4 separate regions of the Homo sapiens genome follow, and regions 2, 3 and 4 are each reported to be linked to region 1. The links are microRNA targets in miRTarBase. Many come from high-throughput screens and were not tested one by one. Region 1 holds a microRNA gene; each other region holds the end of a gene's coding sequence.

What was found. Region 1 holds the annotated microRNA hsa-miR-202-3p (AGAGGUAUAGGGCAUGGGAA, at 3,903-3,922, opposite strand). A microRNA usually pairs through its seed, bases 2 to 8, with sites in the 3' UTR of a target mRNA and lowers its output. Matches are read on the target gene's strand: a 7mer-m8 pairs with bases 2 to 8, a 7mer-A1 pairs with bases 2 to 7 and ends in A, and an 8mer does both.
Region 2: miRTarBase lists HAS2 as a target of hsa-miR-202-3p. Seed matches in the 3' UTR shown: 8mer at 6,084-6,091.
Region 3: the mRNA of MSI2 is a reported target of hsa-miR-202-3p. Seed matches in the 3' UTR shown: 8mer at 4,700-4,707.
Region 4: miRTarBase lists ATP6V1G1 as a target of hsa-miR-202-3p. Seed matches in the 3' UTR shown: 7mer-A1 at 583-589.

Annotation. Positions count from the first base shown.
Region 1 is chr10:133,243,636-133,250,755 of GRCh38, forward strand. It overlaps MIR202 (microRNA 202), which reads right to left and starts at 3,985; the gene lies at 3,876-3,985. It overlaps MIR202HG (MIR202 host gene), which reads right to left and starts at 4,250. Exons shown (of 2, transcript NR_108079.1): 1 at 4,156-4,250; 2 at 2,844-3,415. RefSeq lists enhancers at 1-353, 675-1,874, 1,206-2,058, 3,627-4,141, 4,658-5,172 and a silencer at 3,422-3,541.
Region 2 is chr8:121,607,736-121,614,855 of GRCh38, forward strand. HAS2 (hyaluronan synthase 2) reads right to left here. Exons shown (of 4, transcript NM_005328.3): 4 at 4,381-7,120. The coding sequence ends at 6,374. Among named protein-coding and RNA genes, the nearest start is that of HAS2, 30 kb to the right of the region's middle.
Region 3 is chr17:57,676,318-57,683,437 of GRCh38, forward strand. MSI2 (musashi RNA binding protein 2) reads left to right here. Exons shown (of 14, transcript NM_138962.4): 13 at 670-742; 14 at 3,232-7,120. The coding sequence ends at 711. Among named protein-coding and RNA genes, the nearest start is that of CCDC182, 65 kb to the right of the region's middle. RefSeq lists an enhancer at 1-394.
Region 4 is chr9:114,597,362-114,604,481 of GRCh38, forward strand. ATP6V1G1 (ATPase H+ transporting V1 subunit G1) reads left to right here. Exons shown (of 3, transcript NM_004888.4): 3 at 209-1,518. The coding sequence ends at 382. It also overlaps a transcript of TMEM268 not described here. Among named protein-coding and RNA genes, the nearest start is that of TMEM268, 10 kb to the right of the region's middle.

The sequences.
Region 1 (7,120 bases):
GGATCAGGTGGGAGGTGCAGTCGCTATGAAATAGTCCTGCCAAGAATCTCTGGGAACCTGCACATCTAACTTCCAGTGGACAGGAACCCTCGGGGGCTCCCAGGGCGCCCAGCTGGGCTCCTGCAGAAGCCTCTGTGAGAGAAGGTGGGGTGCCCTCGGGGGCTCCCAGGGTGATCAGCTGGGCTCCTGCAGAAGCCTCTGTGAGAGAGGGCGGGGTGCCCTTGATGCAGAGGCTGGGGAGACGCAGCCGCAGGTGCACACATGAGCCCTGACAAAGAAGTGTGGGAAAGCACAGCCCTGCACAGCTGGTGGGGATGATTCCGAGGGGCTCGGGACGGTGCTGGGGAGTGGTCCGTGTCCTCGGGTGTGGAGAACACCCTGTCTCCAGAGGCAGCGCTCAGGGCCTCAGATCTGAAACTGACATTCAAAGGGTTCAAGACATAGCATGACGTAAATATGGCAGAATATCCACTCCCCTCTCCGTGGGGAGTCCACGGGGCTCGTGCACTTCTCTTTTCAATTCTGCACCTGAGACTATCCAGGAAACTGCAGGGAAGAGGCTGCTTGGACTCGGCCCCTAGCCGGCCCCAGCGTCTCTTCCGAGGCCCAGCACTCACTCCCATTCTGAGCCCAGACTTGTCGGCTTCCAGGCCGTGAGGAAGTGGCAGAGTGCTCAGGGCCTCCTAGGCCACGCCAGGACCTCTGGAGCAAAGTGGGCTCACTGAACAAAAGCAGGCCTTGGCCTCCTTTAGGGGTGTTTGGTGGGGCCCTGCACAGCCCCCAGTCAAAGAAAAATCACCTGGGCCGGGCGCGGTGGCTCACACCTTTAATCCCAGCACTTTGGGAGGCCGAGTCAGGTAGATCATGAGGTAAGGAGTTCGAGACCAGCCTGGCCAAGATGGTGAAAACCATCTCTACTAAAAATACAAAAATTAGCCGGGCACGGTGGCGGGCACCTGTAGTCCCAGCTACTCTGGAGGCTGAAGCAGGAGAATGACGTGAACCTGGGAGGCGGAGGGTGCAGTGGGCCAAGATCGTGCCAGTGCATTCCAGCCTGTGCAACAGAGCAAGACACCAACTCAAAAAAAAAAAAAAAAAGGTAAGTACCAGAAGCGCTGGCCCTCCCCCCATTGCCTCTGCAGCCTGGCTGGGAGGCTCTGCCACCCCCACCTCAGAAAGGTTCCGTTCATGCCCCAGAGTGGCGGTCAGCTTCTCAGGGGACTCCTGGGGCTCCTGAGTACTCCCCAAGGCAGGGTCTCAGAGGGCTTCCTCTTGTTCCCAGGCCAGGAGGACCCTCATTCCCAGCCTGGCTGTCCACAGAAGCCACAGTGAGCCACTCCCCCATGGTGCCCCTCAGCCCCCACCTACCATTCACAGGACAACGGCCTCAGGACCGGGGGGCTGTGGCCAGGAGGCCTCCGTTTCTGGGACGCCTTCCAGCCCCGTCCTGGCCCCTGTGCTCCTTCCAATGCCCTCAGCAGGGTCTCAGTGGCTGGACCTGATACGTGGGCATGTCTTGGCAAGCCTGGACAGCCACCTTGGTGGGGTCTTGGCAGGAGCCCTGCCCATCTTCCTGGGGGAATTCATCCCTCTCCCTGCCCAGCAAGCCGCCCACCCTGCAGTACAGGTGAGGGCACACGGCCCAGCTCACCCAGCCCAGATCCCAGGGAGGGCATAGCCCTCAGAACCACAGCTCTTCTGGGGAAATGGGCACCATACTGGAGAGTGGGGCCTCTCCTTTCACAGCCCAGCAGGTGCTGTTAATTACACCGCAGCCTTGCAGGGACAGAGCTGGGCAGGGTACGAGCGCAGAGTGAGGCGGAGGGACGGAGCCAGGCGGGGTACGAGCGCAGAGTGAGGCAGAGCCTTTGGCTCCCTGGATCCAGCCGTGCCTGCATCCCCATTCTGCCGACACTGTCTGGAGTAACAGCTGCTGCTGCATGTCCGCACAGCACAGCGAGGTAATACCTGCTTTATCTGTGCAGCTTTAAAGCCCTATGTTCAGGTGTCCTGTGGAGAGTGACTCGAAGGCCTGCAAGAGACTCCCCAGCAGGGCCGACCTCCACCGTTCCCTAGGGGGCAGGGGGAGCAGCCGAGCTCGTTGGGGTGGGGGGCGTGGCTGCCCTTCCACATGTGGCCTGCGGCCCCCCGGCCGGAAGCACCCCACCCCTCTGCCTGCTGCCTGATCTTTCCCCTCGGACACCCCAGCTGCGGGCTGTGAGGGAGGTGGGAGGTGACTATCAGATGAGATTAGTGCTAGGCTTGGAGAGGAGGCGCAGCCTGGGGAGGCAGCCCCTGATAACCGGCCTGGGGGCCTCTCAGCCAGCTCATTGCTCCATTTGCTGGGCTCATTGGTGATAAAGGCTGTGGCCTTCAAAGACCTGGGCGTGGCCCTGCCGGCTGACGAGGACTCTGGCTGAAGGGTGGGGCCTCCCCGACTCCCGTTCAGGCCTCCTTTTAAGACAGCAGCCGACTGTCATTCTTTAAACAGGGCTGATGAGGGACCCCCTGTCCATTTTTCTTCAGTGGGAAGTCAAGACCGCAGTCCCACCCTGGCCATTGTGGAGGCCTGGAAGCTGCGGGGCCCCCGCCCAGGACAGACCAGTGCCCCCCACCCTCACAAGCCGTCCCTCTGGGCTCTCCCAACACTGCCGGCCGGTCCCAGGCTCTGGTCATCAGAAGGGTGGCCCCAGACCGGTGCCCAGCCCAGGCCCCCAACCGAGGCCCCAGGAGCCGTTTCATCCCCCCGTGTTTATGCATTTTTAACTAAGTTCCCCCAAGTCCACACGTGACTAATGTGACGTCCAACCACCGTGAACGAGAGGAGACCAGCACGACAGAGCTGCTTTGTCAAAATTTGTATTTATTGTCAAAACTTTACCACATCTCACACATTTAAATGAAATTAGCTCTACTGAAATTTCTGACCAGAAAATCAACTCATACCCATGATTACAAAAGTAATAAAGGTGTTAAGAAGCAACAGCCAGCCGGGCGCTGTGGCTCACGCCTGTAATCCCAGCACTTTGGGAGGCCGAGTGAGGTGGATCATGAGGTCAGGAGTTCAAGACCAGCCTAACAAGGTGAAACCCTATCTCTACTAAAAATAAAAAAATTAGCCGGGTATGGTGGCAGGCGCCTGTCGTTTCAGCTACTTGGGAGGCTGAGACAGGAAAGTCGCTTAAACCCGGGAGACAGAGGTTGTAGTGAGCCGAGATCGCGCCACTGCACTCCAGCCTGGGTGACAGAACGAGACTCCATCTCAAAAAAAAAAAAAAAAAAAAAAAGCAGCAGCAGCAAAAGTGCACAGACCCAGCGTGCACGCGTCTCCGCCACGCCTCACTCCCGTCTGCGCCTGGATCCACCGCCACCCGCTTGTATAAAAAGTGGGCCCCACACGGTGCAGCTTCGTAGTCTGCAAAGAAAATGTCCAAAGAATGAGTTGTGGATCCTCCCAGCCAGAGCCCAGATCCCAGGCACCCCGCCCCACTTCCCCCGACCACCAGGCGGCCCCAGAGCCCAGGTTGTCCCTCCCGCCACCTCCTGTAATGGGTCCACCCCCAACTCCGGTCAGACTGGTCACAGAGCACCGCCCAGCTCCAGCCCTCCTCTCTGCATCCTGGGTCCCAGCTCAGGGGCTGCAGAGATCAACCCAGGGCAGAGGCCTGGACCACGTCCTCCCCAGACACTTCCAGAACCCACACAAAAGCACACATCCACGTTTCCCTTGTTTTAGAATATTTGGCCCCTTTCTGCCCCAAGGATGTGGGGGTCAAAGCCCCGGGGCTCCCGGCCGAGGAGAAAGGAAGCAGGTGGAGTCCCAAGTCAGGAGGCAGGTGCTGCTGGAGCAGGTGCAGGTGCACTGGTGCAGGTGCCGCTGGGGAGGACCCGACCGCCCCGTTTTCCCATGCCCTATACCTCTTTAGGCCAGATCCTCAAAGAAGTATATGCATAGGAAAAAGGAACGGCGGGCGGCTCTGAGGCGGGCCGGCTCTTCAGCACTGGGAGGTGGCTGTCCTGGGGGAGGGTCCCGTGCCGGGCAGCAGGGAGAAGTCGGGACTGAGGCCTGGTGGGCACGGAGATCCTGTGGGAGTGAGGAGGGCAGAGCCAAGCCAGGGCCGAGTTCCCAGAGGCAGGCCTTGGGCCTCGTCTTACCTGTGGTCCAGCCTCCTGGGCCGCTGGCGCTGGGTAGCCCGTGAGCCTCGTGAGCCTGGGAGGAGCGGTGGAGAACTCTCTGAGCCGGGAGTTCTGCTGCTGCCGAGCGAGCTCCACATTTATGCGCAGGGGAGACCTTGGCCGCCGCTGTCACATGCAACCAGAGGGCTGCTCTGTGCCAAGGACCCCGTCGCACCCCCGCACCTGCCAGATTGGGGCACAAAGACCTGCTGTGAGAAGAGTGCTGAGCCAGGGCCCGCCGGGCGGGCGGGCGGCGAGGGCTGTGGGCCGGGGGCTGCTGGCCCGGGAGCTGGGATGGGGCCAGCCTGTCCCCCCGCCTCCTCCAACCCTTATCTCCCCACGCGCTTCTGCTTGCGTCAGGGGCCCGGAAAGCACACGTGAGCAAGAATCGCTTGTCCAGGGAAGGGGCCGACTCTCCTTCCTGGGCCTGCCCAGCTCAGCAATAAGCAGCACCTTGGGCTGCACCCGCAGCCTCCTGGCTCACAGGGACTCTCAGAACCCCCAGCCAGCGTGTCCAACACTGTCCTGGCCACTGGGAACCAGACCCCACCCCCAGGGTAGGTGGCCCTGCTTGGCCTGGGGCGGCCTCCACAGCTGGGGCTCCCTGAGGATTCACGGCATCAGGCGGACACTGGTCCAGTGAGGCCCAGAGCCTTCCCCGGGCCACAGAGCCCGCGAGCACGTGGAGAGGGGCCACGCTCTGCAGCCTTGGGGGCAAGAGTGCAGGGTCGGAGGGAGAGGGCCCCTCAGGGACAGCTGGCCAGACCCACAGCTGCCCACACAGAGCGAGACCACACAGGCAGGCAGACACCCTCTCCTAGGGCCAGGGAGCCCCCGGCCGAAGGGCCCAGGCAGGCAGCAGAACTCCTGCAGGTCTGGGGCTGTCCCTGTGTCCCAGGCTCAGGACACAAGGAAGAGGCCCAGAGGAGGCCAGGGCACAGGGCTTCCACAGGTGGCCAGGGACAGGGCTTCTGAACCCCAGCCAGCGGTCTCTCCCCAGGACGTAGGCAAGTGGAGGCTGGTGAAGGAACAAGGCTGAGGCCTCAGAGGCCTCTTCAGTGACCATGTCCTCGGGGAGACTCAACGTCGCTAGGCAGGCCCGTGCGGGCGCCTGGCCCCAGCACCTGTGATCTGTAGGGCCAGAGTCTCAGGACTGACCCGACGCAGCACCCACATGCGGCAGGGACACACAGAGACCCCCATAGACACACGTAGACACATATAGACTCACATAGACACACACAGAGACACACACAGACACACATAGACACACACAGAGACACAGACATGTAGACAGAGACACACTCAGACATGTAGACACACAGAGACACAGATGTACACAGAGACACACACAGACACGCACACAATGGACCCACACACCCCCCAGGTGCAGCGGGCCTTGACTGTTGTACGCGAGAGTCTCCTGTCCCCTGAGTGGGGAGGGGCGTGGGGGGCATGAGGGGCCAGGTGGGGCTGCAAGACTGTCCAGCGCCCTCCTGATGGCCCCCGAGGCGGCCAGGAGCCCCGTCTGGGGAAGGACGAGTGGGCCCTGCTGGGCAGGAGGAGCCATAGGGACCATGGGGATGATGGACGATGGATGATGACCCAGCCACCTGCCAGGCCACTCTGCAGACCCCCCATGGGAGCAGCCTCTGCCCCCACCTTGTGCAAACCGTTGATCTGCACGCCAGGCCAAGCAGGTGATTGTCACGACCAGCGATGGCCACAGAGGGGTGGGGGGGAGCACATCAGTCGGTCACAAGCCCTCCTGGTGGGGACATGGGGCTGGGGACAGGCCCTGCTCAGGGCTGGTCCCCCACAACGAGGCCCAGAGTGGGCACGGGGGGCTGCTGGGCTCCATCCACCTGCTGGCAGGCTGAGGGTTGCCTTCTGGGGGAGGAGGGAACGTGGAGCTCAGACACACGCATGCTCACACTCAGGCTCACGCACACTCCTGCAGGCATGCTCACATCCACACACACGTGCATGCACAATTCACACACTCAGGCTCACCCACACTCACTCCTGCAGGCACGCTCACATCCGCACACGCATGCACAATTCACACACTTATGCTTACCCTCACTCACACACGCCCATGGTCCCCCACCTCCATGAGGTCCGAGGATCCGAGGAAGAGTCCTTGGGGGGCTAGCAGGGGAGGGGCCCCACTCCTCCAGACACCTAGAACCTACACAGAGAGCCCCAGCATCACACTTCGGGGGCCTGGGCTCAAAAGGCCCCTGCAGAGCCCCCCATCCTGGGCCTCCGCCCAGCATCAGCCCTCCCTGTTTCTCCCCGTTGTTTCTCCCCGTTTCTCCCCGTTTACAGCTGCCCGGCGAGGCTTCTGGGAAACACATAATGCAAACCCTGACCTTGGGCTCCTGACCTCGGTTCTGCAAGAGGGAAGGAGGAGACAGGCAGAGGGCCAGAGAGACAGAGACAGAGAGACCAACAGACACAGAGAGAGACACAGACAGAGTCAGAGAGAGAGAGAGAGGCAGACACAGAGAGAGACACAGACAGAGACAGAGAGAGAGAGATCAGCAGACACAGAGAGAGACACAGACATAGAGGGACAGAGACAGAGACAGTGGGGAAACAGAGACCAAGAGACAGAGACAGTGGGGAGACAGAGAGAGAGACAGACACAGAGAGACAAAGAGAGAGAGACACGGACAGAGATAGAGAGACACAGTGGGGAGACAGAGACCGAGAGACAAAGACACAGAGACAAAGAGACAAACAAAGAGACAGAGACAGTGGGGAGACAGAGAGTAGGGAGATAGAGACAGAGACACAGAGACAGTGGGGAGACAGAGAGGCAGAGACAGAGAGACACATACAGAGAGAAAGAGCAGGGAGACAGACAGACACACACAGAGAGACACATACAGAGAGACAGAGACAGCGGGGAAGCAGGGAGACAGAGACAGAGAGACAC
Region 2 (7,120 bases), not on the chromosome of region 1:
ATGATAAAGACATAGACTTAGCCTCAGAAACCTTTTCGTCCACCAGGTTGTTATCATGTGCACTAATATTCATAAAACAAGACAGAAGAAAGTCTGGACTGCATGACAGAGATAAAAATAGAACACTAAGAGTGAAGGTAAATAAATCATTTTAAATTGAGGTATTGGGTAAAGGATATGCTAGTAAAATGAAGAATATGGAAGAATTTTGACAAGTAGGTATAAGAATGGGGGAACAGTGAAAAGCCATTTAAAATTGAGAGCAAATACCCTCTCACAAAGATAAAAGAGAAGGGCAAAGGTGAAAAGCCATTTAAAATTGAGAGCAAATGCTAACAGAGGAGAAGGGCAAAGTGTGTTCAAGAGGGAGCAAAAAAATCTAGTTTAGTAGGACATGAAAAATAGGAGTAAAGGACTGCAAGGGAGAAAATAGATAATCATCAGTCTTGAATAATTTCTTACATATTTAATGCTTTTGTTGACAATGAGGTGAAGTTAAATCTTTGTATTCAGAATTGGGCCTTAGAATGATAATTTTAACAGAAATGCAAAGAATCCATTGGATGAAACAGAAATGGAGAATAGAAAGGTAGTCAGGAGGTATTTTCTTTTTCTTTTTTTTTTTTTTAGACAGAGTCTCACTCTGTGCCAGGCTGGAGTGCAGTGGCGTGATCTTGGCTCACTGCAACCTCTGCCTCCCTGGTTCAAGCGATTCTCCTGCCTCAGCCTCCCCAGTAGCTGGGACTACAGGCATATGCCACCATGCCCAGGTAATTTTTGTATTTTTAGTAGAGACGGGTTTTTGCCATGTTGGCCAGGCTTGTCTCGAACTCCTGAGCTCAGGTGATCTGCTCGCCTCGGCCTCCCAAAGTGTTGGTATTACAGGCGAGAGCCACTGCGCCCAGCCATCAGGAGGTATTTTCAACAGTTCAGGTAAGAGATTTAAAAAGTCTTAACAAGGATGAGAGATGAATTTGAATGACATGGCAAAGGTGGGATCAAATGACTATAATAACTAGCTGGTTGCGGGCTTCTTATACCAAAACAAAGCTGAAGAGAGTGCTTGGGTAATTGGCAAGAGGCGATGACCTGAGAATGTAAAGCAAGAGGCAGCCTTGGAAGAAATACAATGAATGTGGTCAGGTGCCTGGGAGAGAAATACCAGTTTATTACAAGCATGCTCAGGCCAAATCGTAATTATAAACACAATTGTTTCTGTGAGATCTTTGAAACCAAACATCATAAAGTGCCTTATTTTATGACAATGTTAGAACCCTGTCCAAAAATTCCATGGGTGTGTCATCTATCAAAAGTAATGTAAATATCTCATTCTAGTATTTCTCCCAGTTGTGTTATGGTCTTCTATCGTCCATCTTCAAATTTACTTGTTTTTTTTTTTTTTTTTTTTTTTGAGACAGTCTTGCTCTGTTGCCCAGGCTGGAGTGCAATGGCGTGAACTCGGCTCACTGCAACCTCCACCTCCTGGGTTCAAGCAATTCTCTGGCTTCAGCATCCTGAGTAGCTGGGACTACAGGCATGTGCCACCACGCCCGGCTAATTTTTGTATTTTTAGTAGAGACGGAGTTTCGCCGTGTTGGCCAAGCTGGTCTCGAACTCCTGACCTAAGGTGATCCGCCTGCCTCGGCCTCCCAAAGTGCTGGGATTACAGGCGTGAGCCACCATGCCCGGCCTTCAAATTTACTATCTATAGTCATGTCCCACTCTTGGTTAACTACAACTTCCACTTTAATTAAATGTTAATTCTGTTTAAAGGACAACATATTAAAAGCACACCACTATCGCTGTATTCATGTTCTTTTACCTGAAAAATCATTAATTCCCATCCAAGTTTGCACGTCTTTAAAGAATCAACCTAAATACCAGGCTATCTTAAAACCTGCCGTTATGAGGCTAATTGTACATGTTCACCTTCTTCTTTTTACATCCCATGCCACTCTGTATAAAGAGTATTATTCTATTTCACATCAAATCCCAGTGTAATTACCCTCTTACTTACAGTGTAAATATCCCTCTTACTCAATTGTAAGCTCTTTGAGTATAGACACAGTGTACACCACTTCATTTCTTGCCCGTGACAGGAACTTTTTTCTTTTTTTGAGACAGAGTCTCACTCTGTTGCCTAGTTTGGAGTGCAGTGGCATGATGTCCACTCATTGCAACCTCCACCTCCCGGGTTCAAGTGATTCTCGCGCCTCAGCCTCCAGAGTAGCTGGGATTACAGGCATAAGTCCCCATGCCCGGCTAATTTTTGCATATTTAGTAGAGACGGGGTTTCACCATGTTGGCCAGGCTGGTCTCGAACTCCTGACCTCAAGTGATCCACCCACCTCGGCCTCCCAAAGTGCTGGGATTGCAGGCGTGAGCCACAGTGCCCAGCCTATAACAGGTACTTAATAAACTTAGTTAAAACCAGATATCTGCCAACACCCATAAATTATATTAAAGTAGAAAAGTTCAATGGGAGAATACAATATTTGAATGAATAACTATCTTCGAAATGATATGCGGTTTGAAGGGAACAATATAAGATACTAGATTAGGGCAATGCTTCTCAAACTTTAATGTGTTTAAAAGTCACCTGGATGGGAATCTTATTAAACAGATTCTCCAGAGAATTTGATTCAGTAGGCCTGGGGTAAAGCTACGAACTTGCATTTCTAATAAATTCCCACATGCTGCTGATGCTGCCGGACAGTGGATGAAATACTGAGTAGCATTAGTTGAAGGGGCAAGCTTGATGTCATAATGTCTGGACCTAAATTCCACCACTACAATGTACTGGCTTTATAATATTAAGTTACCAAATTTCTTTAAACTTCACTCAGCTTCCTCGCTTAAAATGGTAATAATAATGGAACTTCTTGGGACTGACATAATAACTAATCTATAAAGCATGCTTCTGGTAGTGCCTAAAACATAGTATGTGCTCAAAAATTAGGTGTCAGTGTGAGTACTTAATGGTACAGATAAGTCCACAGATTTCTAAAGAGCAGGGGTCATTAACTATGGGCTGCAGGATATATCTGGCTTGTTGCCTGTTTTGGTAATGCTGGTGAATTAAGAATAGTTTTGTGGGGGTTTTTTTTGTTTTGTTTTGTTTTGTTTTGTTTTTGAGATAAGTTCTCATTCTTGTTGCCGAGACTGCAGTGCAGTACTGCAAACACAGCTCACTGTAGCCTCCTCGACCTCTGGGGCTAAAGCAATCCTCCCACTTCAGCCTTCTGAGTAGCTGGGACCACAGGCAACGCCCACACCTGGCTAATTAAAAAAAAAAATTGTTTGTAGAGACTGGGTCCTGCCATGTTGCCCAGGCTAGTCTCAAAATCCTGGCCTCAAGCAATCCTCCCACACTGCTGGAGTTACAGGCGTGTGTTACCATGCCCAGTCCTAAAATGTATACTTTAAGGCTCTTTACATTAAAAGACTGTCACCAAGTGACTTCATCAGTGAATTATTAAGTTTAGAACCATCAATATTTCTGGATTATCTGACAATAATGTTCAGTGGCTATAGTTTATAATGTAGCAGTACAAAAGTAATGAAGGATTCTTAGAAAACAGATAACACAAAAGAACTGGGAAATAAGATGAATTTGAGGGATAAGAGGTAAAATGAGATAATTACTATCAAAGTTCCTCTAATCAGAAAATGCTGTTAGATGTCCCAACCCACTTTTTAAAAAGATGATATTTATTGTCTTTTTTTTCCTGATTATAAAAACATATTTATAGTATTTGGAAAATACAAAAACATATACAGAATATAAATCAGTCATTCCCAGTATTAGAGATAATCATGTTTAAACATCTTCACTTTTATAAAATTGGGATGTTACTGTACAAAATGGTTATTTTTTTAATGTGACATTTCTCCAAAATCCACGTGTTCTCTGAGAACATTGTGTTCAATAGCTAATGATGTCCCATTTTTTAGAAATGCCATGATTTATTTAATTATTGCCCTCATCATTTGATTTTAGGTTAAGGTTTTATTATTTCTGAATAATGCTGAAATAAACAAGCTTGCTTATCATATTTCTGCATATCTTTGATTTTTTTTCCTGCTATAAGTTACTATAATTTAAAAAATTGTCTAAATTTGTGCTGCTTTCAAGGGAAGCAGAAGAAAAAGATTATAGACAAGGGTAATGATAATTAAGCAGTCTCTCTCCTCTCTCTGTGGTTTTCCAGATTTTCAAACCACACCAGTTTTAGGGATTTCTACCTAATAATAAGTAACATTAAATGACATATTCTTTTTTACCAACCATCATTTTTTTTAAAACCCCCCCTTCCTAAATTCATACCATTATAATCAGGAAAACAAAGTTCCCCCTTCCCTTAGAAAAAAAGGCAATAATCTTATCAAAAATATTTTATTTACAAAAAATTAATTATACTATACATCCTATACTGGAAATACATTGAATAATTGCTAAAATAAATACAGGCAATTAATTCAACTTTTTATAAGAATGAGAGAATTTGACATTTGAATGTTATCAAAGCTTAACTTAGAACATAAATAGTTAAAAAGGCAAACTCAAGTTTTCATCTCATTTATTGGCATGGTGTGTTTTGTTTTCCACAAGCTCTCCAATCAGTGAGAGTCTTGAGTCTCAGATGTACCTTTTTGTACTCTGAAGGTAGGATGTGCAGCTTTTTCTTAGGCAGGATAGATGTAACATAGATGACTGCATAAAAAAGAGGCAGAAAGGCAGGAAGCCCATTTTTTTTTTAACACTTCTCCATGTGTCTCTGCCTCACCATAATGCTGTTTATTCAATTATTCATATATTCCGATTGTGTTTTCAACACAGGTCTACACAGCACCAGCTACAAGGCAAGGTCAATCGTGTAAAAAATAAAACTGGATAATGGAGGCCTTGCAGTAACTAAATTAGCCAAGTTCAGAGTATGTGGTTCAACAATTTTTATATGTGCCAATCATTGATATACTTATTAAACCTTGATGTCACTTCTACTGTGTAGACATTTTTATACAGGTCCAGAACAGGAAATAGGAAGTGATGATCTGTGTAATTCAGAAAAACAAAATTCCTCATTTGAAAGTAAAAGAGGATAGATACTTGGTGATTCTATCTGCCAATTTTGAATTTATATGTTTTATAATTTATCCAACTCACCCGTGTAAACATTATACTAACATGTAAAGTGAACTGGCAAGTTGAAAAAAAAAAAAAAGACAGGCAAAACATGTTCAATGTGTAGGTAGGACCCAGTAAATTCAGGCCACAGAACAAAACCTTTGATAAACTGCATTGTATGTGTCCAAAATTATACAGATAATTTCTCCACTTTCCACTTGACTTGTTCTGGGAAAACACTGCCAGAATCTCCAAAGATTATTCATCTTTGATACCCATGTTTTGTCCAGTGCTGGATGCCTACTGTTTTCTTTCAAAGACTATCATTCCCTTTTTTTTAAATCTTAATGAAAAAATTGCACTACCTTTGGCCTTGATTTTCAACGATTTTTTTTTTAGGTACACACGAAAGTGTGTATTTTTACTTCCAAAGTGTGATAGGTATATTGGCCTTTTCTAAAAGAAATAAAAACAAAAAGTTAAAATATTGAAAGTTTAAATACTTCTTTCACAGAAATAAACTATTCAATTTTAAAAGGTAGAGAGAGAGAAACATTTTATTCTTTCTATCATGAACATCAGTCAACCAAGCTTCACATTTTGGGCAGGATTTTTTAAGTATAAATTTTTTAAGAACTTATTTTATTTTAAAAAAGGAAGAACAGGTTTATTTTGGCAGAAAAGTAAAATAGAGAATATGCAAAATTTGTCTTTAAGATTGGCATACAAAATTTAAAAACACAGTACAATTATATCAAAATACAGCACAGCCAACGGCCTTTAAAACTTCCTTTGGCATTTCATTTGGTAAAGTTAAAAAGAAAATCCTTCCTAAAAAAAAAAAATTATCATCTATCAAAACAGTCCATAAGTTAGGTTGTATAGGTTGAAAGAACTTTTCCTTGAGTTTCCAAAATCCTTTTCTTCCATGATAACCCACATAAAGCATGGCTAGTGAGGTATATAGGGCAAAACACTTTCAGGCGGATGCACAGTAAGGAAAAAGTGCATAAACAAAGAATTCATCCCATTTTCATAGAAATAACAGGTTAAATCTGAGTTTCTTCTTGTTGATGTATTGTTTTACTTTGGCAGAATGAAAATAAACCCATATAAATGTCTTTGTTCAAGTCCCAGCAGCAGTGATATGTCTCCTTTGGTGGCATTATCTGATGCCACAATACTGTACAGCCCCTAGAGGAACTAAGGTGTTGTGTGTGACTGCAAACGTCAAAACATGGAAGATCATACATCAAGCACCATGTCATATTGTTGTCCCTTCTTCCGCCTGCCACACTTATTGATGAGAACTACATACAGCGTCAAAAGCATGACCCAATAGCATGCATAGAGCAACGTTCCAACAATTAGAACTGTCTGTTTGGATTCTGAAAATGGCCTTTTAGACTCCTTATAAATGGTGAAAATCACACCACCCAGGAGGATTGTAAACCAAACTGATACTGGAATGAGTCCTATGAAATTAACAACAATGGTTTTCCTTCCTGATGTGCCCCACCCAGCTTTGTTTATTGTTGCAATTGCAAACATCTTGGCGGGAAGTAAACTCGACATGTATAACACTGAGTAGAGAGACATGAAGACCATGACGATATTTCCTCTAAGGCAGCTGGCAAAAGATGATTTTATGAGACCTACTAGCTGGACAGTTAACAAGAAGAGGAGAATGTTCCAAATTTTACCCCGGTAGAAGAGCTGGATTACTGTGGCAATGAGAAAGAAAGGAAAGAATCCAGTGATAATCGCTTCGTAGGTCATCCACAAGTGATGTTTGTGAAACCACATTGCATTGTACAGCCATTCTCGGAAGTAGGACTTGCTCCAACGGGTCTGCTGGTTTAGCCATCTGAGATATTCTATAGGTGTTTCAGTAAGGCACTTAGATCGAGCTGTGTATTTTGTTGCATAGCCCAGGCTCAGCACCCGGTTCGTGAGATGCCTGTCATCACCAAAGCTACATTGGTTGCCCAT
Region 3 (7,120 bases), not on the chromosome of region 1:
CTTGTGCAGGATGGGTCCTTGTTCAGCTCCGCTCCCAAGCCAGTATCACTTAAGTCAGTAGTCTGATGAATCTAATCCCTTCGGATCAACTGTGGTACCAAATCCAGAATAATATTATTCACCTGAGAGCTGCTCAATTTAGGGGACCGTCTATCACCACTTATAACACAACTTATTTCCATATTCAGCATCCAGAAACACAGACCCAATTTGTTCTTGAAAACCGGGGTCTTTTGACCTGTGGGCTGTGATGTTTTTCTGAAATAACCAGAAAGCATCCCAGTTTGTCTGCACTGGGATTTCTTCTCCCCAGCTAGAGCCGTTGGGACTGCGGACAGAGACTTATCTTTGCACTCTGGGGTTCAGGGCAACATGCCCATCACTGGGGGCACAAACCCCCGTTTCCCACCATCCACCCACGCCTCTGAATCTGGCTTTTGGTTTCCCCCGGGGTAAGCAGATAGGCTTGGTAGGGGCGGAGGGAGTGGGGACTAGGGATTTGGAGCTGAGGAGGATGTCATCCTGGCCCCTCATGGCACGGTGTCTCAGAATTACATATTCATGCTGGCAACCACAGAACTAGTCCTAGAGATAATTTCCTTTCCCAGAATATGACAATCTGTTCCCATGTATAGCACACTGATGACCTTAACAATTGTGCAATTTTAGGGACCTTTGATTGCAACGGCCTTTACAAATGGATACCATTGAGCAGGTGCTTTCGTTGCCATCTCACTCTGAGGTATTACCGTCTCTGCCATGTGTCTCTGCCCTGCCGGTGTGTCCGTACATGTATGTCCACAGGTCATACATGCACGTGCGTGCCCCTGTCTCATCACATCCACATCTCTCTCTCCTCTTTCTGGACCCCTTTTCAGGAGGGTGGGGGCAAAAGCAAATCCAGTCGTTTAATCTCTCATCTCTTCCTCCAGCTTTTAATCATGACCCCCACCTTTTTGACTCTCTCTCTTTTTTTCTTGATTTGGTTCTTTGGATTCTTTTTCTGTATCTTCCCCACCCTTCATCTTTCTCTGTCTTGAAATACAATCAAGAGTGTGGGAAACTGGAAGGAGATCTCGTGCTGTGCCCGTCCCAGGGGGATAGAGGCAGGGAAGCATTGGGCTTCTGCTAGGCCTGGAAGCAGGGATGGGGGCCAGGGCCACCCACTCCTGGAGGTCCTTTGAGCTGGCCCTGTGGGTTGCTGGGCCCCTTCAGCTCCCCAGGCCTTGCTGGGGCTCAGCCAATGGGGTTCATGCAGTCAAACAGCCAGACTCCATCTTTTAGTGAAAAGAAAACGTTTTTGCCAGTAACTACTGAGTAATTATCCAGATTACTGCACGAAAAGCAAATTAAATTAACGACATCACCTGTGTAACATGGATTTGGATCCCTGCCAGTTTCCTAACCTTTTAAACTGAGCTCAAGTTAATTAAACATTTTTTCAATCACTTTGATGGGGATATGGGGGAGGACGGAAGAGAGGAGAGGGAGGTTGGGGCAGTGAGGAAGCCCCTTGCCACACACTCCTTTGGAAATGAGTATCTGTCCTTCTTGGGAAGAACACCAGCAAGGGAGAGGGGTTGTCCTTGTGAAAGCGCTAGATGTGTACTGTGTTAGCACGTTAAGTTTGTGAGGTTGGAACATGGATCTGTCTCTGGAAAAGAGAGGGTGACAGCTGAGGCCAGGGAATGGATTCCACTCGGAAAATCCCACAGAGGCACCAAAGCCTTTCAATCTTGGAGTTGGGATGTAGGAGAAGCAAGGCTGGAGATGAACTGGCCACTTTGGGCTTGCACTTCATTGGATGCCTCTCTCGTAGAGAGGGATTGCTCCTGGCTCCTGAGTCGGACCAGGTGGAGAACTGGGTTGAGTTGAGCTCCATAAATCTCTTGGATTTCTCTAATGTTGCTGCTAAGGGATCACCTCAACTAACGCAACTGCCTCTCTTAACCAAATAAACCATGTGTGTGAATTCTCCCACCCCTCGCCTCCACTTCCCCTTGAGCACTGACCCAGCCATTGCTGGCCAGAGCCAGAGGCCACTAACAGTTTGAAGGAAAGCTACTTGCTACTAATTAAGCTGGGTTTGGGGACCCAGAGGAAGTAAGGTTTCTCTGAGAACAGGGACAACTGGTATCACCAAGAACTCTGGAGACTGAAGATGGCTCCAGCCCTTTGTGGAGTCAGATGAAGAGGGGGTTAAACAACTACCAGGCACAGCAGACCCTTGAAAGGCCAGACACTGGGGCTGCCTGTGCTCCCTCCCTCCCTCCCCTGGAAGAGAAGGAGTGGTGCAGGGCTTCCTGCCCACAGCTCCATATAACCCCAAGGCCACTAAAGCCTTTCCATAGGGGTGGGGTGGGGTGGAATGGGATGGGGGAGGCTGCTACCAGCCCATCCTCCCTCATCTAAGTCTAGGACTCAATTTCCAGAGAAGGATGAAGTAACCAAGAGTGTGGTAGCAACTCACCCCCTTCCAAAATGGATTAGGTGAGCTCATAGAGTCAGATGGCTGCACCCGCAGCACTTAGGAAGGACTGGTCAAACACACCCATTGTCCCCAACCCTCTGACATTCAGCGCCATCCACAAAAGAGGAGCCCAGGCCCCCTACTCCCAGTCAATTCAGGGAGACTCAGTAAACACATCTGTGAATCCTGGGCCTGTTTTTGTTTCCTGTAACCAAAGCCGGTTATTTGTTGTATATTTTTAGTGTCATGACCTTTAGTTTTTGGTATATGATATGATCTTTTAGTGTAAGTTTGCATTTAAAAGTTATCGATGGGTATCTAATAAAGGCAAGTTTGTGGGGTTTTTTTTGTTTGTTTGTTTGTTTTTTTAACATTTAGCTTTGAAAACAGAAGTTTAAACAGAAAAAAGGTATCTCAGGTCAATGGGCAGTTTGCCCACCTGGCTGCAATCCCTGTAAGCACATTTCCCACCACTACCTCAACAACCCTATGGTACTATATCAAATCAGCAAAAGAATTGAAGCCTTGTCCTCTCCCCAGTGTCAGGTATGGTTTAGATGTCAGATTTCCCAACCTGTGATCTCAGTAAGCTTCTAGCCAGGTGATTCTCGTGCGTATTCAATAGTCCAGTGAAGTCCATCTTTGAAACTCTAGTTAAAACAGTGGAGGAAATCGCATACTTGTCTGACACTTCTTTCTCCTCCCCTCTCCCCTCCATTTTATGTTTTCTTCTGGACATCCTGGCCTTCCCTGCCCTGCAGAGCATACCTGGATGTCCAGGCAAGACTGGGCGAAGTTTCTGAGTGGCCCTTTGTTTAGGTGATGTCCTCAGACCTGGACCCCCACCAGCCTCACTCCCCATCCCAACCAGAGATGGCTCACTTCGGATCGAGGGTTGACTACATCTCATCATCTCACGAATCTGCTGTAATATAAGACAACAGCTTTTAAATGTGTATATAACCCATGATTTCGGTTTTGTTTTGTTTTGTTTTTCTTGATGGTTTCCCTCTCCCTCCCTCTCTTCCCATTCTCCTTTTAAATCTCTTTGAATCACATTTGGTAGTGATTTTGACTTAGTCCAGTAGTCACATAGCTTTAATATCTAGTTCAAAGCTAACCATAGTATAATTGTTATATTAAGGAGTTATTTTTTCTTAAAACATTTTTTTTTGCTTGTTTTGGTTCTGTTCTCACTTTTAAAGGATGCTGAGATGGTAATATGACTCTCCATATTTTGGTACCAATTCTGAGACTGTATGAATTTTCAGGTGGAACTTTAGCACACACTGAAGCAAAGTTGTGAAGTGCAGGGCGGGAGGTGGGCGTGAGCTTTCTATTTTGCGTTGTAGAAGAAGTGAGATGTAGTAAGCTAATTAACAGACTTTCTAGCAGTTCTTTTTGTGATGTCTCTTTGTTAATCTGAGTCTATCTATTTTCGGCAATAAGGTAAGGACGACAGTGTTTTGAGTGTCCTCCTTTTCTATAAGTGCTTTTTTTCTGTTGAAAGAGGTGATATTATAAGGTTTTTTGAAATTGTGAATTCTAAAAAAGAAATGTTGTAAATACAATTCCATTAACTACATAGAAACTATTAAGAAAGAGAGAATCAAAAATATTTTTGTGAGGGAGTCGGTCCCAGGCAGTTTGATGCTCTGTGGAAGGAGGCGGGAAGGGAACGTTGGCCAAGTCAGTTACTGAGATGAAGATCGCCCAGCTGCCAGGACCACCCCAGGACAAGTTAGAGCACTGTTTAGCTCCTTTGTCTGTGTGATAGACCTAAGAACTGTATTAGTGTTGTACCAGCCTATTAACCTCTTGTCTGTGCACAGCTTCAAATGTTACCGTCTAGTTAGATTTTTATTTAAAATATGAAAAACTGCTTTTCCCAAGATGTTTTTTAAAAACAAAGCTACAATTTTAATATTTAACATATTTAAAGTTTCAAAGCACACCTGTTTGGCTTGGGTGGGGGTGGGGTGGGGGGGACATTCTTTTTCAGTCTTAATTTTTAAATATTTGATCATTTTCTATTGTCCAATCATTTCAGCACCTCCAAAGGTCCCTAGGACACTTTGCCTCTCTTCTCCCCCTGCCCCCCACCCTGCTCCCACATCTGGGGGCCCATGGGCCAGGAGTGGATAAGCCTGCATTAATACAACCTTTCTCCATTCACTTTCTATTTACAAATTAGGAAAGCAACCTTTTGGTTTATATATATTTTTTTTAATACCTCAGTGCTGCAAGTATCACCAGAGAGGCTATGGAAGAATTTTTTTTTAATTTATTGTAGATGTAAACAGAATTTTAAAAATAAAAAGTATAAACATCACTGCACTGTGACTGGTGGGAAAAACTGACAGTTTCCTCTTTGCACATGTTTAACATTTGGCTGTTATAATATATGGTCCTCGGTTGGGGAAAGATACTTATGATGAAGGATATTTTTTAATTTAACTTTTTTTTAAATATTGGTAATAGGTCGGCAACAGCAACTATAGAAGTACAACTCAATAGATGGCATTAAAACATATTGTAGTGTGGATATATATTTTTTCTTTTTTAAAATGTGATATTGACGTTTTATTAATATTTTTTAAATTGTTACGTTTATAAATTTGGTACTTAAGGCACAGCCAGTATGAGACACTGAATGCGACATTTATTATAAAGAGCTGCTGCACTCCTATTTTTATAAATTTTACTAACAAAGTAGACTAATGTAGACATTCACAGACATGGTAGGGCAAAAGCATCTTCAAACTAAAGACTCCAAAATGCTAACTCAGAAAGAAAGAAAAAACCCGTTTTCAATTCTAATGAAACAGCAACAACATTTTTTTTAATTAAAAAAAAAATCATGTTCTTTGTTTTTCTAATAAAATGTTAGGTTGTTTGGTGAGGTTTTTTTGTTGTTTTTTTCCTTTCTTTGTTTCTTTTCTTTTCCCCCAAACAACCAGATTAAATGCTGAGCGCTTTTAAAATATCAAAACTTGTTCAAGTCATAAAACAACAAAACATAAGTTTTATTTAAAAAAAAAAAAAGAAAGAAAAAATAGTAAATTCCCAGAAATTCAGTGTTTAGACGAGGGAATTTAATTCCTATTTTGTCCATGTTGGTGATGTACTGTACTTCCCTTCCTTTTCTCTGCATCCCCCATCACCTCATAGAAGACTCTTTGTTGATCATTGTATGTTAATAATGTATAAAATGGCTATCTTGTAAGCGTGCTGTCCTGGTACTAGTGTAGCGACTTTTTTTCTCCTCTTTCTTCTAGTACATATTGATAGGTATAACATAATTAAGGTTTAAAAAAAATTAGACATAGTTATTCAGATTTAGGACCAGTAAGGATAGAACTTTCTCTTATTTATGAAAAAAAATGCTAATAATTTTGGGGCAGTTTTTTCCTTTAATTATTTTTTTCAATTTCAAGTTTAATTTTATTTTAGCTGATCTGATGTGGTTTCAACTAACCCAAGGTCTCACCATGTTAAAATGCCGGCGGACTCTACGGCGTTTTGTAGATCCCCCCCCCCCCACCCACTGTGAAGGGGTGCCATACTACCTTAAATGCTAATGCTAGATATGCAAAACTGGATTTTTTTAATTTATTTTTTAAAAGAGGGAGGCATGGTATATTAAAATGATTTTACTAAGAGAAAAAATATTTTTTTAAGAATGCTCAGAAGAAATTGATAATCTGTGTGAATATGTTTTAGATGTTTATATACCTTTTGAAGAGACCCAGTAGCCCATAGCACAAATCTTGTGGAAATCCGATATGTTTTAATGTGGCTACCTAGGTTTAAGGTTCACGTTAGTCCCCCCATTCCATCTAGAAGTCCATTTTGAAAGATTTTTGTAAATTCTTTTAACACTGATGTTTCAGCCTCGTCTTTGTTTCAGTTAAGCTCAATGGCGAACATGGGAACCACCTTTCGCCTTCCCTGGGGGAGAAACCCTCTTGGCTGATGGCTTTTCCCCGGAATTATCAAACAGCCACCGGGTGACTTTCTGGCTTCCAGATCCATCTGCCTGAGACCCCCGAACTCCTCTCCTCCCAAGCAGAGGCGAGTGAGTGGCATTAGCTCCCGGACCCATTCCCGGTCCTAGCTGGGCATGGGGCTGACGGAGATGACCAAGCCTTGGTCTGCTCTCTAGCAGCTTCCACAGACTTGGCTCGTGGCCTTCCTTATATCCACTGGGAACAAACAGCCTCGCGCTCTATACCAAACAGCCTCGCGCTCTATCCCAGTCGCCCATTAGCTTGATTCAAACAAAGCCCCAGCAGGCCTTTGCGTTTTTATCCTTCATAACCTTCATCTTAATTTGAACTTGTAGCTTGGACTTTAAGGTAGCATGGCTCTATTGCTGTCAATTTACTGTTTCACTGCACAGCAATCACAGCCAGTGAATGTTACACACATCTTGCTAGACTAGTATAAAAATCATTGGGTAATTGTTGGTTCTAATGACCTGAAAGGTGTTCAGTTTTTGTTCTTGGTTTTGTTTTGTTTTTGATTTCTTGGGGGTGGGTTTTGCTTGTTGTTCCTTTTCATTTGGGGGTTTTTGGGGAAAAAATTTATTTTTGGTTCCAAATAGAAAAACAAAACCTATTTTGATCTTTAGTGCAAACGAGGGCTAGG
Region 4 (7,120 bases), not on the chromosome of region 1:
TGTAGTTTACTTTTGGTAGATGTGGCTCCTGTTAACTCTGAGAATACCTCACATGTGCTCCAGCCATGAGGTCATATTGCCAGCTTCTGAGTATACTGATAGGTGAGCCTGGGTTTCTCCAAAAGTCAACAAGTAGCTTACGAAATGTACCTGACCAACCAGAGCATTGTTCTGATAATCCCTCCGTGACATCACTCCCCATCTCCAGGCATTGGGATCCCGTGGCAGTTGCAGCACTGAAGTGGAGAAGGAGACCCAGGAGAAGATGACCATCCTCCAGACATACTTCCGGCAGAACAGGGATGAAGTCTTGGACAACCTCTTGGCTTTTGTCTGTGACATTCGGCCAGAAATCCATGAAAACTACCGCATAAATGGATAGAAGAGAGAAGCACCTGTGCTGTGGAGTGGCATTTTAGATGCCCTCACGAATATGAAGCTTAGCACAGCTCTAGTTACATTCTTATGATATGGCATTAAATTATTTCCATATATTATATAATAGGTCCTTCCACTTTTTGGAGAGTAGCAAATCTAGCTTTTTTGTACAGACTTAGAAATTATCTAAAGATTTCATCTTTTTACCTCATATTTCTTAGGAATTTAATGGTTATATGTTGTCTTTTTTTCCTATGTCTTTTGGCTCAAGCAACATGTATATCAGTGTTGACTTTTTCTTTCTTAGATCTAGTTTAAAAAAAAAAAAAACCACATAACAATTCTTTGAAGAAAGGAAGGGATTAAATAATTTTTTTCCCTAACACTTTCTTGAAGGTCAGGGGCTTTATCTATGAAAAAGTAGTAAATAGTTCTTTGTAACCTGTGTGAAGCAGCAGCCAGCCTTAAAGTAGTCCATTCTTGCTAATGGTTAGAACAGTGAATACTAGTGGAATTGTTTGGGCTGCTTTTAGTTTCTCTTAATCAAAATTACTAGATGATAGAATTCAAGAACTTGTTACATGTATTACTTGGTGTATCGATAATCATTTAAAAGTAAAGACTCTGTCATGCATTTTTCCCCATTCTTTTTTTTTTCCCTGTCTCCGTGACAACCAGTGGTTCTTCATTTTTGATCATGCGAAATGCATTTTGACCCAGATGGTCTGCAGAACTTCACTTAGGACATTAGCACACAAATAGCACACATATCACATACCCATTTATATACATAATTAGAAAATGTTCCTGATACATGTGTCATGTGATTTCTTCCAACAAATGTTTTGGAAAACAGCAAGCAACTAGTCTGTAGGTTGTCTTTTCTCTAGAGATCCTTGTCCTGGGACAGCCTGGGGCAAGTTATTAAGCATATTTCCTTCCTGGTGGGCTAGATGATGTGCATTATACCTGTAGTACCTTCATACTAGCCCTTACAAGTTAAATGTCCTGTGGCCATCTTAGCCGAAAGTCTTTGGTTGCAAAATCTTATAGGTAAAAACAGTTGAAAGAACATTATGGGATTTCCTTGCTTGTTCTGATACAATACAACTAGATGACCTTAAAAACCCTCATATTTAATATGACTCAGGATTTTATTTTTCAGACCACTACTGTCTCTAGTTACTGTTTCATTTCTCTGTTCCTTTTTAATAGAATTCCTCAAAAGAGTGACTGGATGAGCTTTTCCTGTTTTTTTTTTTTTTTTTTTTTTTTTTAAACTGTTAAAACCCTCAAGGCTTGCTGTGCCACTGAAGCTGTATGTCAAGATCAGCAATGTGGTCCAGGTTGAGAAAGCTCATCCTCTTCCTCCTTGACCTTCAGTACTCTGACAGGGTTGACCATTCCTTCCTTGAAGCACTTTTTTTGAGACAGGGTCTCATTCTGTGGCCCAGGTTGGAGTGCAGTGGCCTGGTGTGATCTCAGCTCACTGCAACCTCCGTGTCCCGTGTTCAGTCGGCCCACCTCAGTCTCTCAAGTACCTAGGACTACAGGCACACACCACCGCACCTGGCTACTTTTTCTGTTTTTAGTAGAGACAGGGTTTCTCCATGTTCCCTGGGCTGGTCTCAAACTTCTGGGCTCAAGCGATCCTCCTGCCTTGGCTTCCCAAAGTGCTGGGATTACAGGTGTGAGCCACTGCACCCAGCCCACTTTACTTAGCTTCCATCGTGCAGTATTGTGCTTCCTTGCTTCTCATTCTCTCCCTCATTCTTCCTTCAACTTTTTTTTTTTTTTTTTTTTTGAGATGGAGTTTTGTTCTGTTGCCCAGGCTGGAGTGTGGTGGCATGATCTCGGCTCACTGCAGCCTCTGCCTCCCGGGGTTCAGGTGATTATACTGCCTCAGCCTCCCTAGTAGCTGGGACTACAGGTGTGCGCCACCATGGCCAGCTAATTTTTGTGTTTTTAGTAGAGACAGGGTTTCACCATGTTGGCCAGGATGGTCTCAATCTCTTGACCTCATGATCTGCCCACCTCGGCCTCCCAAAGTGCTGGGATTACAGGTGTGAGCCACTGCACCCGGCCTCCTTCAGCTTAATTTATTAGTCTTTTCACGCTGCTGATAAAGATATACCCGAGACAGGGAAGAAAAAGGTTTAATTGGACTTAAAGTTCCACATGGCTAGGGAGGCCTGAGAATCATGGCGGGAGGCAAAAGACACTTCTTATATGGTGACGGCAAGAGAAAATGAGGAAACCCCTCATAAACCCATAAGAGCTCATGAGACTTAGAGAATAGCATAGAAAGACACCCCTATGATTCAATTACCTCCCCCTGGGTCCCTCCCACAACACGTGGGAATTCTGGGAGATACAATTCAAGTTGAGATTTGGGTAGGGATGCAGCCAAACCATATCATTCTGCCTCTGGCCCCTCCAAATCTCATGTCCTCACATTTCAAAACCAATCATACCTTCCCAATAGTCCACCAAAGACTTACTTCAGTATTAACCCAAAAGTCCACAGTACAAAGTCTCATCTGAGACAAGGCAAGTCCCTTTGCCTATGAGCCTATAAAATCAAAAGCAAGCTAGTTACTTCCTAGATACAACGGGGGTACAGATATTGGGTAAACACAGCTGTTCCAAATGGGAGAAATTGGCCAAAACAAAGCAGTTACAGGGCCCATGCAAGTCTGAAATCCAGCAGGGCAGTCAAATTGTAAAGCTCCGAAGTGATCTTTGACTTCAGGTCTCACATCCAGGTCACGCTGATGCAAGAGGTGGGTTCTGCCCCTGTGGCTTTGCAGGGTACAGCCTGCAGTGGTCTTGGGCAGCTCTGTCCCTGTGGCTTTGCAGGGTACAGCCTCCTTCCTGGCTGCTTTCATGGGCTGGTGTTGAGTGTCTGTGGCTTTTCCAGGTGCATGGTGCAAGCTATCAGTGGATCCCATTCTGGGGTCTGGAGGACGGTGGCTGTCTCCTCACAGCTCCACTAGGCAGTGCCCCAGTAGGGACTCTGTGTGGGGCTCTGACCCCCCATTTCCCTTCCATACTGCCCTAGCAGAGGTTCTTCATGAGGGCCCCGCCCCTTCAGCAAACTTTTGCCTGGGTATCTAGGTGTTTCCATACATCTTCTGAAATCTAGGCGGAGGTTCCCAGACCTCAATTCTTGACTTCTGTGCACCTGCGGGCTCAACACCACGTGGAAGCTGCCAAAGCTTGGGGCTTCCACCCTTTGAAGCCACAGACTAAGCTGTACATTGGCCCCTTTCAGCCAGCCATGGCCAGAGGGGCTGGGACATGGTGCCAAGTCCCTAGGCTGCACACAGCACAGGGACCCTGGGCCTGGCTCACGCAACCACTTTTTCTTCCTGAGCCTCCAGGCCTGTGATGGGAAGGGCTCTCTAATAAAAATACAAAAATTAGCCAGGCGTGGTGGTGGGTGCCCGTAGTTTCAGCTACTCAGGAGGCTGAGATGGGAGAATCACTTGAACCTGGGAGGCAGAGGTTGCAGTGAGCTGAGATCACACCACGACACCCCAGCCTGGGCAACAGAGTAATGCTCTGCCTCAAAAAAGAAAAGCTGTTAGCAGTTGTAGCAGAAACATGGTTTTACCCGTGGAATATCCATGGGCTCTGACGTAGATATTCCATGTCCAGACCATGAAGGTCTCTGACATGGCCTGGAGACATTTTCCCTATGGTCTTGAGGATTAACATTAGCCTCCTTGCTACTTACGCAAATTTCCGCAGCCAGCTTGAATTTCTCCCCAGAAAATGCATTTTAATTTTCTATCACATAGGCTGCAAATTTTCCAAACTTTTATGCTCTGCTTCCCTTATAAAACTGAATGCCTTTAACAGCACCCAAGTCACCTCTTGAATGTTTTGCTGCTTAGAAATTTCTACCAGATACCCTAAATCATTTCTCTCAAGTTCAAAGTTCCATAAGTCACTAGGGCAGGGGTAAAATGCTGCCAGTCTCTTTGCTAAAACATAGCAAGAGTCACCTTTGCTCCAGTTCCCAACAAGTTCCTCATCTCCATCTGAGACCACCTCAGCCTGGACCTTATTGTTCATATTGGTATCAGCATTTTGGGCAAAGCCATTCAACAAGTCTCTGGGAAATTCCAAACTTCCCCACATTTTCCTGTCTTCCTCTGAGCCCTCCAAACTGTTCCAACCTCTACCTGTTACCCAGTTCCAAAGTTGCTTCCACATTTTTGGTTATCTTTTTAGCAGCACCCCACTCCTGGTACCAATATACTGTATCAGTCCGTTTTCATGCGGCTGATAAAGACATACCTGATACTGGGAAGAAAAAGAGGTTTAATTGGACTTAACAGTTCCACATGGCTGAGGAGGTCTCAGAATCATGGCAGGAGGTGAAAGGCACTTCTTACATGGTGGAGGCAAGAGAAAATGAGGAAGAAGCAAAAGCAGCCTGATAAATCTATCAGATCTCGTGAGACTTATTCACTATCATGAGAACAGCACAGGAAAGACTGACCCCCATGATTCAATTACCTCCCCCTTGGTCCCTCCCACAACACGTGGGAATTCTGGGAGATGCAATTGAAGTTGAGGCTTGGGTGGGGACACAGCCAAACCATATCACCAAGGTTTTGTTCTTGGACTTCTCTAACATTCTATTGGTGAGACCACATTCATTTCCAGGCTTTATTACCTATACTGAAGACCCAAATTTCTATCTCAAACCCATTTCTCTTGAGCTGTAGTCATTAAATTGCTTATTTGATATTTTGACTTGGATGTCTGGTAAACATCTCCATCTTAACATGTCAGTTTGGAGGGCTTAACAAACTGTATCCAGTTTTGTTAAGGCTTTACTCTCCTTATTGCTAAGTGTAGCAACTCCTAATCTCTGCCAACTGCAAATACAGATTTCCCAAACTGGAGAAACATGAAGCAACACTCATGTTCAAGTGCTTAGACTCAATGTTTAAATGGGTTGCCAACAGTATTTTTATTCTGGATTAATGGAGTTGTGCTTATTTACTTAACTGCTTGACTATTAATACTGAGCCAAGCAACCCAACGTTGCCAGTCACAGAAACCAACAGCAGAGAGGTTTTATTTTTTTGAGACGCTCTTTCGCCCAGGCTGGAGTGCAGTGGCATAACGATCAGGGCTCACTGCAGCTTCAACCTCTTGGGCTCAAGCCATCTGCCTGCCTCAGACTCCAGAGTGCAGAGATTACAGGTATGAACCACCATGCCTGGCCGGGAGGGTTTCCTTTTGTACACTTAATACATTATAGGGCTTTGTAGCAGTGTCCCTGGCCTCTACCCACTAGATGCCAGCAGAACCCCTTCAGTTGTGAAACAAAAAATATCTCCAGATATTGTCAAATGTCCCCTGGGTGCCAAAAACCACCCCCAGATTAGAGAAGATAAGGCACTATACAAGATGTCTGGAACATTCTAGGTACTCAGCAAATGTTTCCTAATTTTCTAAAATTTGCTGTCCTTTTCTCAGACTAATCATTCTTGATTACAAGTTTAATAATAGCTGCATCGGTCAGGACAGGACAGGTTCTGAAATCTCTGTGGCTTAATGTAACAAAGGTTTATTTCTTACAAAATCTGATACAAGTTGGGTGACTTCAGGGTGACTGTTCTCCATGTGGCCGCTCAGTGATTTGGATTACTTCCAGTTTGTGTCTCTACCATCTCACCACATGGTTTCCATGAAATTTCAGTGATGGGAAGAAAAAGTTGGCAAGCATGCATCAGCTCTCACCTGCTTCAGTCCTCAAATGACACTTGTTCTCAGCATATTGGTGTAGGTCACGTGTCCCGACCCAACACAAGGGAGGCTAAGAAATAAGGGGAAGCCCATGGATATTCCATGGGTAAAACCATGTTTCTGCTACAACTGCTAACAGCTTTTTTTTTTTTTTTTTGAGACAGAGCCTTACTCTATTGCCCAGGCTGGGGTGTAGTGGCATGATTTCGGCTCACTGCAACCTCCCGCTCCCAGGTTCAAGTGATTCTCCCACCTCAGCCTCCTGAGTAGCTGGGACTACAGGCGCCCACCACCACGCCTGGCTAATTTTTGTATTTTTAGTAGAGATGCGGTTTCACCATGTTGGCCAGGCTGGTCTCGAACTGCTGACCTCAAGTGATCTGCCTGCCTTGGCCTCCCAAAGTGCTGGGATTATGGATGTGAGCCACCATGCCCTGCCTGCTAACAGCTTTCTATGTGCCAGCTAGTTGTAAGAACTTTTACATTTATATTGACTAATTTAATTCTTTTTTTTTTTTTATGGGATATGAGACTGAGAGAGGTTAAGGAACCAGCCCAAGGATGTGCAGTGATGGAGCCAAGATTCAAACTTGCAATCCGGCTTTTGCATCTGTGTTTAACCACGGTGTGTACTGAGTATTGAACAACTTCATAGCTATATACCTTTTATGTATCTTACCCATCTGATTCTTTTCCCTTTACCTCTCCCAAATTGTAGAGTGATGCTCTTCAGTTGCCCTCTGGGCAATTTTATGTCATGTAAACCTACAGAGGATGCCCTGATAAAAGGCATAAAATATGGCTCACACCTGTAATCCCAGCACTTTGGGAGGCCGAGGCTGGTGGATCATTTGAGGCCAGGAGTTCGAGACGAGCCTGGCCAACATAGCGAAACCCTGTCTCTACTGAAAATACAAAAAATTTACTGGGGCGTGGTGGTGTGCACCTGTAGTCCCAGCTACTCAGGATGCTG